Linked DNA regions of Homo sapiens. The protein of the gene in region 1 purifies or fractionates together with the protein of each later gene. This does not show direct contact. Each region holds a gene or a part of one and is shown on either strand. Other genes may lie near its edges. The genes, in order: SLC35G5 and SLC35F3.

The links.
Region 2: the proteins of SLC35G5 (region 1) and SLC35F3 purify together in Homo sapiens (affinity purification with mass spectrometry; one large-scale study listed by BioGRID and IntAct). This does not show direct contact.

Annotation. Positions count from the first base shown.
Region 1 is NC_000008.11:11,329,549-11,332,860, forward strand, and holds SLC35G5 (solute carrier family 35 member G5), read left to right. Parts: upstream 1-1,463; 5' UTR 1,464-1,558; coding exon 1,559-2,575; 3' UTR 2,576-2,812; downstream 2,813-3,312.
Region 2 is NC_000001.11:234,233,062-234,236,972, reverse strand, and holds part of SLC35F3 (solute carrier family 35 member F3), read right to left. Parts: intron 1-3,911. UniProt on the Homo sapiens protein: Mediates thiamine transport.

The DNA.
Region 1 (3,312 bases):
CGAGTGATCCGCCAGCCTCGGCCTCCTGAGGTGCCGGGATTGTAGACGGAGTCTGGTTCACTCAGTGCTCAATGTTGCCCAGGCTGGAGTGCAGTGGCGTGATCTCGGCTCGCTACAACCTCCACCTCCCAGCCGCCTGCCTTGGCCTCCCAAAGTGCTGAGATTGCAGCCTCTGCCCGGCCGCCACCCCGTCTGGGAAGGGAGGAGCGTCTCCGCCTGGCCACCCATCGTCTGGGATGTGAGGAGCCCCTCTGCCCGGCTGCCCAGTCTGGGAAGTGAGGAGCGCCTCTTCCTGGCCGCCATCCCGTCTAGGAAGTGAGGAGCGTCTCTGCCCAGCTGCCCATCATCTGAGATGTGGGGAGCGCCTCTGCCCGGCTGCGACCCCGTCTGGGAGGTGAGAAGCGTCTCTGCCCGGCCGCCCTGTCTGAGAAGTGAGGAGCCCCTCCGCCTGGCAGCTGCCCCGTCTGGGAAGTGAGGAGCACCCCGCCCGGCAGCCGCCCCGTCTGGGAAGTGAGGAGCGTCTCCGCCTGGCAGCCGCCCCATCCGGGAGGGAGGTGGGAGGTCAGCCCCCGCCCGGCCAGCAGCCCCGTCCGGGAGGGAGGTCGGGGATCAGCCCCCGCCCGGCCAGCCGCCCCGTCCGGGAGGGAGGTGGGGGGTCAGCCGCGGCCTGGCCAGCCGCCCCGTCCGGGAGGGAGGTGGAGGGTCAGCCCCCCACCGGCCAGCCGCCCTGTCCGGGAGGGAGGTGGGGGGTCAGCCCCCACCCGGCCAGCTGCCCCGTCTGGGAGGGAGGTGGGGGGCGCCTCTGCCCGGCTGCCCCTTCTGGGAAGTGAGGAGCCCCTCTGCCCGGCCACCACCCCGTCTGGGAGGTGTACCCAACAGCTCATTGAGAACGGGCCATGATGACGATGGCGGTTTTGTGGAATAGAAAAGGGGGAAAGGTGGGGAAAAGATAGAGAAATCAGATTGTTGCTGTGTCTGTGTAGAAAGAAGTAGACATGGGAGACTTCATTTTGTTCTGTACTGGGAGGGGTTCTTCTGCCTTGGGATACTGTTGATCTGTGACCTTGACCCCAGCCCTGTGCTCTCTGGGGCATGTGCTGTGTCCACTCAGGGTTAAATGGATTAAGGGCGGTGCAAGATGTGCTTTGTTAAACAGATACTTGAAGACAGCATGCTCGTTAAGAGTCATCACCACTCCCTAATCTCAAGTACCCAGGGACACAAACACTGCGGAAGGCCGCAGGGTCCTCTGCCTAGGAAAACCAGAGACCTTTGTTCACTTGTTTATCTGCTGACCTTCCCTCCACTATTGTCCTATGACCCTGCCAAATCCCCCTCTGCGAGAAACACCCAAGAATGATCAATTAAAAAAAAAAAAAAGAAAGAAAGAAAGAAAGAAAAGAAGCAGAGTTGGACTCAGCGGGAAAATAGGCGTGCTACCACCTCAGGAGAGTTCCAGGGAAGAACCCCACCCGCACTCCAATGAGGTCACAATGGCTGGAGCTCTGAGGGGCCCAGGCTCCCTGAGCCAGGAGGAGAGGAGAAAGTCCAAGGAAAGATGGCTGGCAGTCACCCCTACTTCAACCTGCCTGACTCCACACACCCATCGCCGCCCTCCGCTCCACCCAGCCTCCGCTGGCACCAGCGCTGCCAGCCCTCTGGTGCCACCAATGGCCTGCTGGTGGCCCTGCTGGGTGGGGGCCTGCCTGCTGGCTTCGTGGGCCCCCTTTCTCGTATGGCTTACCAGGGTTCCAACCTGCCCTCGCTGGAGCTGCTCATCTGTCGATGCCTCTTCCACCTCCCTATTGCCCTGCTACTTAAACTGCGTGGCGACCCCCTTCTGGGACCTCCTGACATCCGAGGCTGGGCCTGCTTCTGTGCCCTGCTCAACGTCCTCAGCATTGGATGTGCCTACAGTGCAGTTCAGGTGGTGCCCGCTGGCAACGCTGCCACTGTTCGCAAAGGTTCTTCCACCGTATGCTCCGCTGTCCTCACCCTCTGCCTTGAGAGCCAGGGTCTCGGTGGCTACGAGTGGTGTGGACTGTTGGGCAGCATCCTAGGACTAATCATCATTCTGGGACCTGGACTCTGGACACTACAGGAGGGGACCACAGGTGTCTACACCACCCTGGGCTATGTGCAGGCTTTCCTGGGAGGCCTGGCGCTGTCCCTGGGGCTTCTGGTCTATCGTTCTCTGCACTTTCCCTCCTGCCTCCCAACAGTGGCCTTCCTATCTGGCTTGGTGGGGCTGCTGGGCTGTGTGCCAGGCCTCTTTGTGCTGCAGACCCCCGTGTTGCCCAGTGACCTCCTGAGTTGGAGTTGTGTGGGGGCAGAGGGGATCCTCGCCTTGGTCTCCTTCACATGTGTGGGCTATGCGGTCACCAAGGCCCACCCTGCCCTGGTGTGCGCTGTCCTGCATTCCGAGGTGGTTGTGGCCCTTATACTGCAGTATTATATGCTCCATGAGACTGTGGCACTTTCTGACATCATGGGGGCAGGGGTTGTGCTGGGCAGCATTGCCATCATTACAGCCCGGAACCTCAGCTGTGAGAGGACAGGGAAGGTGGAGGAGTGAGATAGAACTTGGGAGCCCGGGGGTTGGGAGGGACAGGGATAAATAAAGACAAAGACTGAAGACAAAAAAAAAATAAAAGAAAAAAAATAATTATAATAAATCCTAGGAAAGAGTGAAAGTCTAACTTCCATAGCACATTATAATATTGAGATGTTCAGTTATAATAAAAATATCACAAAGCATGCAAACAAATGAGAAATCTGGCTTATTTACAGGAATAAAATTAATTGAACTATCCTTAAGGAATCCCAGACTTTGGACTTACTAGACAAAGACTAAACAATTGTCTTAAATATGCACAAGAGTTAAAAGACAACTAAATGAAATCAGAGAAATGATGTTTGAACAAAATGAGAATATCAATAAAAATATAAAAATTATAGAAAGGAACCAGGTAGAAATTTTGTAGCTGAAACGTGCGACAACTGAGATGAGAAATTCACTAGAAGGGTTCGATAGAGTTTGTTTGTTTTTTGTTTTTTGCTTTTTTTTTTCTGAGACAGAATCTTGCTCTGTCACACAGGCTGGAGTGCAGTGGCATGATCTCAGCTCACTGTAACATCCGCCTTCTGGGTTCAAGCAATTCTCCTACATCAGCCTCCCAAGTAGCTGAGATTACAGGTGCATGCCACCACACGCAGCTAATTTTTGTATTTTTAGTAGAGATGAGGTTTCACTATGTTGGCCAGGCTGGTCTCAAACTCCTGACCTTGTGATCCACCCGCCTTGGCCTCCCA
Region 2 (3,911 bases), on another chromosome or scaffold:
TTTCCTCCATATATATATATATATATATATATATATATATATATATAATTTTTTTTTTAATAGGAGACTGTCTCCCACTCAGTTGTGAGTTCCTTAGGGTCAAGAACAACAATTGTCATCCACATCTGTCCACGTGCCCACATAGATATCAAAGAAGTATATGTTGACCTGGATTGACCTCCAGCCTTGTCCTTCATTCCATTTTCTACAGAGTCGCAGCAGCTGCATTTTGAAAGATCCAATCTGATCATTGCTTCCATGACTCCTGATATTCACACTGGAAGTGAAACTCCTCAGCATAGTGTAGGAGGCTTGCCAGCATCTGCTCTGCCTAACTGCTGGGTCTTCTCTTTCACCTTACCCCAATTACATCCTACATCCTAAGAAGAGCTCCGTGCTCTTTGTCCAGGCTGTGTCCTTTATCCAGGCTACTGTCTGCTTAGAATGTTCTTGACCTTCTCCTTCGGCACCTAGAGAACCATCTGCTTGTCCTTAAATAAATTGTTTCTGGCTAACTTCTTTTTTTTTGTTTTGAGACAGGGTCTCACGCTGTTACCCAGGCTGGAGTGCAGTGGTCTGATCACTGCTTATTACAGCCTTAACCTCCCAAGGCTCAGGTGATCCTCCTGCCTAGTCCCCTGAGTAGCTGGGACTACAGGTGCACCATCACGCCTGGCTAATTTTTAGTATTTTTAGTAGAGACAGGGTTTTGCCATGTTGCCAAGGCTGGTCTTGAACTTCTGGGCTCAATCAATCTGCCCTCCTCAGCCCACCAAAGTGCTGGGATTACAGACAAGAGCCACCATGCCAGGCCCTAGCTAACTTCTTCTAAGAAACTTTTGTACCCTGCCCCAGGACACATGTATCTGGACATGTATCTGGGCCTTCCCCCACTCTCAGCTCCCTTGCATGCACCCCCACCCTGTTTGGCTATCTGACTCCCTTTCCAGAGTCCATTTATCTTGTATTTCTAGTGCATTGCCTAGAGAAGACGCACAGTAACTATTTTCAGAACAAAGCTCCGGTTTGCAACTGCTCCACTCTGCTCTTTAGATTTTAAATGGCCGATAAATGTTACAGCTGCAAGACCCGATATGGTTCCTGCGTAAGTCTGGGTGGCAAGGTACACACACCGGGCCCTTGCAGGGTTTAAGATGAAAGGCATCTAAACTGCCCTTTTCCCTTTCTTGGCTCTACTGTTGCTCAGAATATCTGAAGCAGAATCAATTGGCTGGCTTACAGAAAGCCTGGAACTACAAAAGGCAGAGAAAAACATCTGTCACCACTGCACCGTTCACTTTTTTTGGCAGCTGCATGATAGCAGAAGGTCTCAGCATTTGCTTTCGAAAGCAGGTCATTACTGCTGCAAATTCCTGGAAGACCTTTGGACAAGACTGAAAATGCCCCAGATCTGCTCCAGCTCTGCTGACCTCTCAGATCTGAAAAGCTGCATTCCTGTTCCAAGGTCAGAGGGGCCAGGAGGCTGTGTGTCATCACACATGTGCTCAACAGTCTCTCCCAAACACAGACCTGATACAGCCACTTCCCTGTGCCTCCCCTAGATGCTAGGTGGTCCAGGAAACTGTGGTTCCCAAGCACCCTCAAGCGTCTCATGACTGAAGCCCTCTCTGAGTTCTGGGCACTATTGCTTCCTCAGAACATCCTTGTGGCCACCTTCATTGAGAAACAGTGAAGATAAGGGTTGGGCTGCCTATCATATTGGAGAAGGAAGCAGCTCATTGTACTCCTGGATGGTTGAGTGCTTGCTAGGAAGACTAAGGCAGGGGCTGAAAACCCAGATGAGTTAGGCTGAGAGGTTTGCCCATTCACATCTAATTCTTGACAACAGTATCTGATCATGAGAAGCCCTGATCAGTGTTCTTGTATGCCCTGTGAAGGCACTAGGGCCACAAGTTGATTTCTTCAGGACTGACACTTGCATGCAGCATAGGGGTTGGCACTCTCGTAGTTTAAATTGGCCACCACAAGGCAGCTCACGAACAAAGCATGGGCAACAGCCTTCAGTACAACCCACAGAGGCTATCACAACACAGTACTTGTTCCTCGCGTTTACACAGCATGTTACAGTGTATAGGGCGCTTTCATATACAGCGTGTCATTTGATCACACAGCAGTCTTTTGTACAAGACAGTGCATATATCATCACCTCCCATTTACAAATGGGCATCTGAGGCTCTGAGAGCTTTGAGGACTTGCCCACGGAGCCTCCCGTCATGAGTGGCAGAGGACCAGGGCTTGAAGAGGACCAGGGCTCGAACATCCTCTGGGGCTCAATGGAGTCACTCATCAGTTCTACATGGTGAGGTGAATCCTAGTTCTAACATTTGGTAAAATCAGCAGCATTTAAAAAAAAAATCTGTAGCTGGGACTCAACAACTCCAGGGCATTTACAGTTAAAGTGCAGCCTGTGGGCCAGCAGCACTAGGATTCCCTGGAAGTTCCCTAGAAAAGCGGAATCTCAGATCCACTCAGACCCACTGAATCAGAGTCTGCCTTCAACAAGACCCCAGGGAGCCTCACAGGGCGTTGCAGGTTGCGGAGCTCTGTGCTGGGGAACACATGCCTTCCTCTCTCGGCTCCGGCTTCACCCTGGGGAAGCGGCTCAGTTGGGGAGGGTTTAGAGAAAAGAAGCTTCCATCTGATTGCCTCCTGATAACTGCAAGAAAAGCTGCTGTATCTGTCCAGCTCCCCTCTTGGTGGAACAGGTCTCTGTTCATCTCCTTTTCTTCCCAGCTCCCTGCTAAACACTTTTAGCCAAGAGACTCATCTCCTCAGACAAATCAAAATCTTCTCTCTGGCATTAATTTTGATAAAGCATGAAGATGAAAGATGTGATTTCAGTCTTCCTTGATCTCTGAGAATCCTAAAGTCTGTTTAAAGTACTCCCAATATGAGTTGTGACAGAATTGTGATGTCCTAAGGAAGGTCTGTGATGTTAAAATTTTTCTCTCCTTTTGAGGAAGGATCTCTCTTCACCCCTCCAATGGTGTATATGGCTTGATTGACATGCCTAATAATTGGCTGGTAAATTAGCATCTCTGCCTAGCCACGGGGCTAACACAGCTTATAATCAGAAAAAAACAAACAAAAAACAAAACAAAACAAAACAACTTTTTTAAAGAGCTGGAGCAGAATGTGATGACAGAAATTGGGAAAGCTTTTAACCAGTTTACCAATAAAGTTGGGATTATCCTCCCTCTTTTACATTGTTCGCCAGTTAACAGGGCAGTCATCAGATTTTTTAAATGATTCTTTTTGAGCACTTTTTATAGGAAGACAATAGGTTGAAATCAAGGTGCTGATGCTTTTCTATGTATAACTAATCTTCAATGACCTTCCATTTTTTCCTACATTGACCGTATAAGCACCACTTGATCTTGATTCCATCTGTGCGGTTTTCAGCACAATAGTTTAATGGTGCCAGGCCCGCCCTAAGTGGCTGGTGGTGACAGTCTTCCCAGGTAAGTGGTAGCCATGGAGCACATTTGGGACAACAGCCAGTGTTACCACTTGGGGGTCCTCTTTCAGCCTGTATGGTTGAAGGTAGCAGGAAAGAAGAATTTCATCTTCTCTCCCAATAATTCTTGATCAAGAACGTGCATATAAGCTCACTTTGAGCATTTCGTTAGAGGCAGTAGCATACCATCCTAATCAGTTTTAATGAAGGGTTACCGCCTAATTACAAATTAAATACACTTAGGGATACTTAACTGTTAAATACATCATTTACTAAATATTAGCTTTTCTCTGGGACTATTTTACTCTTGCCTTTGGGACAATCTTGGGTGCTAATGATTTGTTTCCTTCTGCTTTTGGCTTCTATTCAGAAGAGGGTGCATTAAGTGCCTCTTTAGCAATTTCTGGCTGGTCCATGAGCCACTGGTTTAGGT